Linked DNA regions of Homo sapiens: region 1 is linked to region 2. Evidence: fine-mapped expression QTL. A gene starts in region 2. The other region holds a variant in brackets. All regions are shown on one strand. Distances are from middle to middle.

Region 1 (5,000 bases), 240 kb after region 2:
TCCCTCAGCTCCCACTGTGTATAGGCACTTTACCTCCATTATCAGGTGGATTTTAATCCTCAAAACACCACTGCAGCGTGGGCATTATACTTATTTTTAAGTTGAAGAAGGTGATAGTCAGATTAAATAATTTGCCCAGCCACACAGCTAATGGCAGAGCCTGAGTACAAACCAAGCTCCAATTCCAAAACATGCTCTTTCCACTTCATGCTGCTTTTTCCAATATCACAGACAAGGGAACAGCACCCGAAGGATGATGTGATGAAATCCAAGGTCATGGAGGTTTTCAGAGGCAACAGTATGATTATTTCCACTACTGCACACTGCCTCCTACTACCAACCTGAAGTTGCACTGTTTGTTCCATTCCTCTCCTCATGCTCAGGCATAAGAGCTGTTTTCCATTCTTTCAACCTCTAAAGAAACTCTACCTTTTTTCTGGTTTGCAATGAAAGAAGGCAGTGAGCATTTAAAATATTATCGAGAGTGTGTATGCTCAAAGTAAGAGACTGGGAAATCAGAAACAAGACATCATGAGAAAAACTGATGGCATCATTACATTTCCACCAAATTATTCACAGCTACCTAGAAGCTTAAAGAGTCTATGTCAATATTAGGTTTGAACTACCATAATTGTTCAGAGTGAATAAGTTTGTTCTACATGAAGCTGGAGGCTGAGCTAACTCTAGAGAAGGTAATCAATATAATAACCTGAGGTTTTGTCCACATACAAACTGATTTATTAGGAGGAGTCGGTGGAAGGTACGAGGAGATTCAATTCAACCTTTTTCCCCCTGAGTGGGGAAGGAGAAGACAGGCAATGGGTACAGGCAGATGGAAGAAGCATAGTGGTTAAGCACGTGGGCACTGGAGTTAGCCTCACTAGATTCACAATCTGCTTAGCAGTTGTGTAACCTGGGGCAAATCACTAAACCTTGCTAAGCCTCAGTTCTTCATCTGTGAAATAAAAAGCACAGTGCCTAGCATGTAAGTTCTCAATAAATAATAGCTATTGTCATTATTAAATTGGCTGCACATAATCATGCTAGTTTCACAAATACTAACAGCTAATATAACATTTGCATTTTAGTTCCTAAAACTCCTTGGGAATACAGTTGAAATACCAGTTAGTATCAAAGAGCTGACCTCTGATGAGAAATAACCAGCAACACTCCTTCTTGAACTTGCTTTTGTTAAAGATTACAACTCTTGCAAATATTTTTATTGTATTATTCTACTATGTCTTACTGATATTGGCTGGAAGTTGTAACTTTATTTTTAATACGAAATTTATTTCCTTTGTAAAACTTGGATAGAACCACTAAGCAGTCCAGAGTCCAAGTCCTTCCAGACAAATGCTCCCCCTGCTGACTTTCTGTGCAGCTGCAGGGACATCTGAGGGCTAGACAAATTGAAGACATGAGAGTTGGGGGAATTATTACAGAGAAAATGGAAAGAACAGATGAACTTGAACCTGATTACTGTGTATAGATGTTTCCAAAGGTGTTACTCTCCTGTTAAGTTTTCAAGATATGAAGTACTTTGTTGAAGAGGGCAGGGGGTCTGTCCAGATTAGTTGACACGTAGATCCTCCTTTAAAATGTAAAGTATGTGCAGAATAATAAAAGACATGAAGGGTATAAAATAAATGAGATCAAAGACAATAGGATTTTTGGCTATATTTTAAGCATACCCTTTCCTCTGCTGATGTATGACCACTGTCTTTATCTTACTGCAAATTCACTTCAAAGTAGTAGTGATGTAATAATAAATTAATGAGGTAATAGCAGAATTTTTATTACAACTACTTCATGGCTTTTCTGGCTAAAAGCTGTAGTTTTCAGTCTTTGGGACATGGTTACTTATTCCCATCAGAGAAGACTGTAAGAACCAAAGATTGATTCTGCACATTTTTTAAAAATCTGCCACAGACATGGCATTAAATGGAGTATAGAAATGATGCATACTTTGGAAGAAAGAAGAGAAAAAAAGGAATGATAAAGAGTTTGTACAATAGAGAAGCAGTTTTCAGTCCCAGCTCTTCATCTTGTAAAGCTAGTAAAGTGAAGATTATAAAATTTACTTACAAGATGAAGGTTATAGCACATAGCTCACTTTTATTATCATTTCAAAGGTCATAAAATATATTTTATTATTAACTCAGAAAATCTAGTTCTTTATTATTACAGATAACAAGAGCATTGTATATTATTTGATGTACGTATTTTGCAGTGCTTTTTATATGTCTGTTTTCCTCTTGTTGCTAATTTACTTTCATTAACTTCACGCCTCCTCTTACATTTCCTCAAAAGGTATGATACGCTTCTTATAATGCACTTTTATAAACACTAAATGTGCAGCATTTTACAGCCATTTCATTACGCTAACCTTGAAATCTGTCTTGTGCAACAAAACTATTTGAAATGAATGTTAAACATTTTGTAGCTGCATTAATGGAGGGAAAGATACTGGAAAATGACAGGTCTTTTTAACTCAACTATAAAGTCTTGTCTTATTTTAATAGATCCTTTATAAAATGTGATGGGATTGACCCATCAGTCACTTTTTATATAACCTCCATGTGAAATGTGAGTTTAAGTGGCTATAGTTTCCCTAATGAGAAAAGGTAAATGTAAAAATGCCTATGGAGCTTCTTCCCTGTAGGTTCCACTGCACTTTTTCTCAGTGAAAGGATTGAGGCGCTTATGCTAAACAAGGGAATAAAGTGGTGGAAATTCCATCAAATCTTTTGTCTAAGCTACTACTGTTTTGAGGCGAGAATGTTGAATGCAAGCTTGTGCATTCCACACTGATTCCACTGAAGCTCCTTTTCTATCTCTGCTGAGGTATGCAGGTACTGTTATA[G/C]CATTTTTATGTGGGTAATCACCCAAATTCTCCATGATCATAGGTATATCATGACATTAACCACAAAATTGCCAAAGTCAATAACCATGTAGACAAGAGGCCATGAAAATGACCATTTTGCATTTAGATTTATTTTCAGTCATGTCAACAACCAACAGCTGAGTCATTCAGATCAACCACATGATGATCTGAGTCAGTACTAAAGTGGCCAAAATAACCAGATTATGATGTGCAGGCTTGATTTTAGATCAGACTGACACAGCCACAGTCCATTAGCCTCAATACAATGGCACAGTGTAATTTCCATAAATTACTGTATTTTTCTCCACATTGTCAAGTAGACAATGCATAAACTACCATTAGTATTCACAGCAGCAAAATATACCTCTTTCCATATCAAACTGTGATTCTGGAATTACTCCAAAGTCAGTTTTCTCCTTGGTCTGGCAAAACCTCATCATTCCAAATAAAAATGACAGTCACAGTTCTGTCCCAAATGAACAACAGATAATAAACAATAATTATACAAATATGTTTGGTTTTCATGCCACTATATTTCTCAGTGTTTGGAGAAAATTTGTACCTTCTATAACTTGCACACCATTTTGGATTTTCTTATACAAAATACGGGTATTTTATACTACAAAAATGTGGGTATTTCTCTCCTAGTGTATAAGTTTAAATGTTTTATTTTCTATTCTGCCTCTCTGTGCCTCAGTTTCTTTATCTGTAAAATACCTCTGTTTGCTTATCTTTAAAATAGTACCTAACCATAGGGATAGAGAATTAAAATAGTTGGCACAGGTAAAGCAATTAGAACAGAGTCTGGCACACAAGAAGTGCTCAATAAGTATTAGCTATAATTGTTATCATTTTTCTTCCTCTATTACTATGGATGTTTCTTTGGAATGTTAATCTTTTATATAGCAAAATTATTTCTAGAGTCAGATCAGTTCAGAATAAATTAAATGTATGTGGCAACAATGAAGAAAGACTCTGAAAGGTCTAAATGCATAATCAAAACACCCTGTATACTTTTAGCATTCAGAAGTGTGCCACATTCTTTTCTGACTCATCCAGATGTTTTTACTTCTGATTAAAAGAGAAATGTTCCCAGATGAAATCCTGAGATAGTGTAACTGTTAGAAAAATCTACTGCAAAGCAGATTTTCAAATTCAAAAAGCTAAAAGTGATCATGTTCAGGAAATAAATACGGGTTGTCTCAGGAATCCAGGGACGAACAGGAACTACAGATTTAAAAAAAATCAAGTCAGTTTGTTATAGTTAACCAATAATAAATATTTATCAAAATACCTGCCAAAATTATTCAGAGTGTAGCATCTAAAACAACTGAGTTTTCCAGAGGCCAGAAAAAGGTTACCTTGGGACACAGGAATTTAAATTTGCTTTAAAGTGGTGAAATGCTGGTACAGACAGAGAAGAGCTTGATTTGCCGGCTCTCAGCCCAGAACTACCCTCTTCCCACAGAGCCTGGAGATATGCCAGGCTCCTACGCCTATTCTTGACTTTATGACAGAGTGGGTTCTCTTCCTGTGAGTTTTTCTGGGCATGGGAGAACATAGCGTAACTAGGATGGAGCTCTGCCACACAGCAGAATTATCCTAAGGATGATGTGGCAATGTTTTATAAAACCTAGGGAGCAGATTTTCATTTCTGCAGACAGAGCCAGCCTTCAGCAACACTGTGAAGGAGATGAAGTTTCCTGAGTACAAGCCATTACCCATCACTGAGCATTCAATTCCCTCACACTGTCCAATAACTTCTTATGGTCCCTGTCTCTGAGGAACACTCATGATGCAGGACCAAACTTGCAACCCTGTCTGCACCTTGAGAGTTTTATAAAGTGCTGCTGCTTAGTCCCAACCCCCAGGGTTATGATTTAATTGGTCTTGAAGCCTAGGCAAGGTTTTTTGTCTTTTTGTGTTGACGTGTTTTGACTGAAGCTCCCTAGATGATATTGATATGCAGGCAGAACTGAGAATCACTGATGTAGAAGAACAATGTTTCTCAGTTTGGTCTGCAGACCACTTGCAGCAGAATCACCTGTGATGCTTAAGAAGTGCAGATTCTTGGGCATTCAGCTATTCTGAATCTGCATTTTAACAAACACCTCAG
Region 2 (5,483 bases):
ATGCTCCCATTAGGCAAAGGATATAGTATCTTGGTTTCATTTTCTTCGAAGGGTATAGCAGTTTCCTTCCAATGAAATAGGATGATTTCTGTTGTTGTTTTCCTGATTTTTATGAAGTTGGCAAGTATGAGGCTCACTGTACGGTATAGATCACCTCTTAGAATTCCACTGGCCAACAGTTCTTTATGCTTATCCAAGTGCACCTCTCAAGCCTGAAACAAGCACAAAGCTCATGAAGAGAAGTACACTTTTTACTTTTTGATAAAAACTGCAATGGTTATTTTCTTGCTATTTAAACTATATCATAGAGCTCATTTAAAAGTACAGATCATAGGTACTAAGGCTAGCAGGTAATCCTAAATTCAGCAGGGATACTCTTAACCACAGAGGGAGAGCTAGGTTTGGGGCTTTGTTGGCAACTTCTGGTGGCTATGATGCTGCTAGTATAATCTCTAACCCCTCGTTGGAAAATCAAAGTTGAAGTTTATAAAGTGTCTCCCTGCTCTTTTGGGTGAGGAATCGATTGCTAAAGAATTTGCATGTATTATACAGGCTTTTCAACCAACAGCAATATGCTTAGTCTACCACTGTGCCCCTGCTGGCTCAGATGAGAGTAGTCCAACTCTGCCAACAGCTGCCACTGACAGCTAAAAATTGAAAGAGTGGCAGCAGATAAAAGAGAGGGGAAAAAGGTATTGGGCAGGGGAGGATGACAATGGAAGGGATGGGTGGCATTTACATTCATGACTTCGAGGGTTTTCAAGTGCATAGGCACCAAAATACTTTTCTGCCTCTCATCTTTAGTTACTGAGCCACCCTCATCACTCTTCAAGCCAAATGACAGTGAAGATGGCCACAGATCTTTTCTTCCACCTCCTCTTACAGCTGGCCAAGCATGGCTGGGGACGTGGCTACTTTCAGGAGTGAAGTGAGACATGCTGAAAGTCACTTTCTCCTCGTACAAAATATATTGTTCACTCACATGAAATCAAAACTAAAACCTCCTCATTAAAGTTGTTCCTTTGGGACAAGGCATTGAAGGCTCCTATTAAAATGCAACTGTGTTATCTAAAAAGGAGAAACACCTAGTGCCTGGCACAGAGTAAAGGTTCTTTAAATGTGACATTTTAATATTAAATTGTCATTGCCTGCCATTAGAATCTTAGTAAAGATTGTCTCCCGGGCCTTTTGAGGAGCCACAATGGAAAGATTTTAATGTGGAACATTGGCATAGACTTGATAGCAGAGTCTGAAGTTATGTGGAATATGAGGAGAGAGGAGGATGACAGCATGAGGAAACTTGGGGGACAAGAGGGCACTTTTACTAGGTGAGAAAGAGGGAAGGGAGTTTGGAAATTAACATTTATTGATTTTTCTCTGAGGCAGGCACTGAATTAGATGCTTTCATATCAATTATCTTACTTAATTTTCACAACTGCCTTATAAAGAAAGATATTAATATTCCCATTTTGAAGATGAGAGAACTGGGGTTCAGATTAACAAAGTTGTTCAAGGTCACACACTGCCTGTATGTGATGGGACTTAGACTCGAACCTGGACGTGTATGCCTCCTAAGCCCATGTTCCCGAATAATGCTATGTCCCTGTCTACATTTGGCAGGGGATGACCAACCTTACCTCTGCTACCCGCTTTGCCCTAATGCTTCTTCCACTGAAAAGATGAGTCTCCTCAGACTCTCATGTTTCTCCTTCACTCCTGTCCATGAAATATCAAAATGGAGACAAAAGATTTCTATGAGTGGTGGGTGGGAGGAAATTATGCATTATCAGAATGAATAGAAATTTGGGAAGAGCCTAGGACAATTTTTCTGGTTTGAAGCCATTTTGTTCCATTGTTCCAGGCTCCAGACTACGTCTCGCCAAATCCAAAGTTCTGTAGCAACTGATATACTAGCTGGGCTCCAGGGTCCTTCTATCCCCTGTATATTCCCAATTTTATCCCCGATGTATATCAGTTCGCTTTACACTGGCAGGAGAGTTCATGTTCCACTTAGACCAGGAGGAGAGGATATGAAAAGGAAAATAGCAGGTGTGGGGAGGATAAAACCCATGCCTTCTACAGTAACTGTAAAGTAAAAGTGAAAAACGTGAGAGATAAAGAGGATTCTTTTTCCTCATTGCGGGAGAAAGGGGCTAGGGAGAGGAGTCTATAGCCCAGGAGGTTCATCCGCAGCATGCTATGGAGAAGGCCACCGTCACTGAAATCCGGTCTGTACTGTAGGACTTCATAGGTTCTTTGCTCGCCTTAGAGCAGAGGGGAAGAAGAGTCAGAAAGAATTGATAACCTCTGAGGTCATCAGTCAGGGGCCTAGGCTGCTAAGTCCAGAGGCAACACCAAGGGATCAATGCAGCTAGGTACAGTTTTCTCCAGCCTCAACTTTCAATCCCCACCCCCAGACCAGCTCATTCCCACACCTCCCTCCTCCTTGGTCAGTGAGCCTGAGCGTCCTTTTCATTAACCTTTTAGTTACTACCTCTACGCACATACTTTTTCCTATGCCCTCCAAAGAAGTCAGCCCCATACTGCCCATCACTGCTCAGCACCGCCCACCCCATGCCCCCGCAAGCCGGCCTCAGCACTAGTTTAAGGGGAGGGACACGCCTCCCAAAGCTGCGGGGATGGGGGTGGGGGTTGCTCACTCGCCCTCGGATCTCTGCTGTAAAAGCGGAGCGGCAGAGACCGGGCATGCGCAGCATCTTCGGGCGCATTGTGATGGGAACTGCTTCTCTGAGTCTCTACAAAGACTCCGGAGTAACCACTAATGGCCCTCCTAAGGCCCCCCTTCTTTAAGACAGACACACAAACACAGAGGCAATGCAGCTATTTTTTTTTAAAGGGTGGGAGGACGTTGCAGCTTGAAAGGTTGATCCACGTTAGGAGTGGTGTATTTCTATTGATCCCATCTCCGGTGTTGACAAACGCCAGCGCCTAGGCTTTGCAGTCCGGGGCTGCAGTTTGCAGTAGAGCTAAGCGGTGTGCGGCTTTAATTCCACGTCAGATCAACTTTGATCAATATCCCCCTACTGGCCCAATTGGAAGAGCCCAATTCACCGGCACTGAGCCTTTTCGCTCTTTCCTTTTTTTCCCCCCCTCTTTAGACCTACCATCTTTTGCGGGGGGGGGGGGGCGCGGAGAGAGTCTCAGATTGTCTTGATAATTTATTCTTTCGTTCTCTTTCTTTTGCTTCTCTATTTTTGTTTTTCAGTGTTTTGCTTGTTTTGTTCTGTTTTAGGATTTTATTCTCTCTCTCTCTCTCTCTCTCTCTCTCTCTCTCTCTCTCTATCATAGGGACAGAAATCGCTTTGGCAAACCCAGCTTGCAGCCAATGAACCCGCCTTCCAGATTGGTGTGAAGACAGAAGTGAGGTGGGGGGAAGGGAGGGGGTGTGAGAGATCCTGGGAGCGAGAGGGAGAGAGAGGGAGCAAGAAAGGAAGAGAGAGCGAGCGAGAGAGAGCGAGCGAATAAGAGAGAGAGTAAGAGGGAGAGAGAAGAAGAGGAAGAAGAGGAGGCGGCGGCAGCGGAGGAGGAGGAGGACTAGTGTGGGGTGGAAAGGAAGAGTGAGCGAGAGCAAGTTAAGGGGAGGGGGTGTAAGAGCCAGCGAATTCTTTTTCTTTTTCTATTATTATTTTGACGACTCCTGAGTTGCGCCCATGCTCTTGTCAGCTTCGTTTTAGGCGTAGCATGGCCAGGCAGAAGAAAATGGGGCAAAGCGTGCTCCGGGCGGTCTTCTTTTTAGTCCTGGGGCTTTTGGGTCATTCTCACGGAGGATTCCCCAACACCATCAGCATAGGTAAGCGCAAGCGAGCCAGCCGTCGGTCCAGGCTCTCCCTCACCCGAGACCACTGCCCCGGCAAGGCTTTCCCTGCGGTGGGTCCCTGTCCTGCGTGGCCTGGGAACTGGGACTGGGGCCGGGACCGGGCAGAGATGGTGCGGGGCGGGGGGCGGGGCGGGGGGAATCTGAGCCTCAACGAGGTGGCTGGTCTGAAGAGCCTCTGGGACAAGAGAGGGGTCTCCTGGGGCTAGTGGGGGTGAACTGCTAGGTTTTCCGAGCCGAGAGGAGCACCGGAGGCGAGCAGGAGGCTGGGATGCTGCAAGGGGGTGAAGAGTCGAGGCTTTTCGGCTCGCTGCTCTGGACTTTGCCATGGCGTGCGTGCAGCTCCTGGAAGTTGTCCCAGGGTGATGCCGACTGTCTGGCCGCGCCAGGGCGCATAACCCGGGCCCGGGGTGCTCAGTCCGTGGTCTCCGGCTGTCGGGAGACAGGCTGGTGCTGGGGGAGGTGGAGCCCACTTTGGATCTCCCAGACCCGGGCAGCAGCAGGCGTTGGTGGTGGATGGGGTAGGAGGCGGGGGTGAGACTAGGAGCTGAGCGGGCAAGCGGCGAAGTCACGCAGACCACGAATTCATGAATTGCCGCTGTGTCTGTCTGGAGCCCGGCTCCTGGGCGCCTGGAGGGAGTTATCTTGGCTTCTGTCGTATTTACAAGTCTAGAAGTTAGAATTTTTGCCATTACTGAACCAACCCCCTGTATTGTCACGGGGGAGGGTGGCTATGGGGAACGGGTTGGGGTAGCAGGGGGAACAATATTGTTTTTCTTCCCAACCTTTCCCTTCACACAATGAAAAGATGACCAGCTGTGCGGATGGGCGGGGGGCGGAGGGGGGGGGCGACTAAAAAAAAAGAAGGCTGCCGACTAAGAAAGAACCAAGTCTCACTCTTGGTTCCATCGTCCTAACCCAAAACGGCTCCCTCGTCTCTTCTCCCTTCTCTCTAGCCTCTTCTTTTCAGTCTAGAAAAGCCAGGTTTCTCTTGGCCAAAATCTGAGTTCACAAGTCTTGAAAGACACACAGGTTGAATATCAATCCTCAATCCCACACCCCAGTATCATTGAGAGGTATCCGGTATCTATATTGTTCCCCAATTCCTAACTGGCCCTAGTGTGGGGGAACACAAGCCAAATCTCCGTTCCCTTTGCTTATAGGTGGACTTTTCATGAGAAACACAGTGCAGGAGCACAGCGCTTTCCGCTTTGCCGTGCAGTTATACAACACCAACCAGAACACCACCGAGAAGCCCTTCCATTTGAATTACCACGTAGATCACTTGGATTCCTCCAATAGTTTTTCCGTGACAAATGCTTGTAAGTAGATCTGCTTTTCCTCCCTTTGGGACGTTGGGGACCTCATTTGCATCTTTCTTGTGGCACTTAGGGTCTGTGTATGTGCTGGGAGATGATTGCTTCAGTAGATATTTTAGGGGCTCTAATCCATCCGGTTTCATGTTGCATAAATCAACTCCAAATGATACTGCTGAGGGGCTTAAGACAGTGGGAAAAACTCAAGACAGTGGGCAAAAGTCTGCTCCAAATAGTGTTTGATGCAAAAGTTTCATTTTCCTCCATGCTAACCTAGTGTGTTCCTTCTCCAACACTCTCTCTCTTTTTTTTTTAACTGGGGAAAAAAAAAG

Direction of the effects. Alleles are on the strand shown, and positions count from the first base shown. SD is a standard deviation of normalised expression in the study named.
For the expression in fibroblasts of the gene that starts at base 3,445 in region 2, G is the high allele of the variant in region 1 and C is the other (small effect, 0.09 SD a copy in GTEx).

The links. PIP is the estimated chance that this variant, and not a neighbour inherited with it, causes the effect.
Region 1: its variant is the best candidate, but not a certain one, in a credible set for the expression of GRIA3 in fibroblasts (GTEx, PIP 0.54).

What each region holds. Positions count from the first base shown.
Region 1 is chrX:123,421,714-123,426,713 of GRCh38, forward strand. The region is part of intron 11 of GRIA3 (glutamate ionotropic receptor AMPA type subunit 3); the gene reads left to right. Among named protein-coding and RNA genes, the nearest start is that of GRIA3, 240 kb to the left of the region's middle. RefSeq lists an enhancer at 2,871-3,020. The variant G/C (reference allele first, on the strand shown) is at 2,864.
Region 2 is chrX:123,180,834-123,186,316 of GRCh38, forward strand. GRIA3 (glutamate ionotropic receptor AMPA type subunit 3) reads left to right here and starts at 3,445. Exons shown (of 16, transcript NM_007325.5): 1 at 3,445-3,811; 2 at 4,999-5,157. The coding sequence starts at 3,703.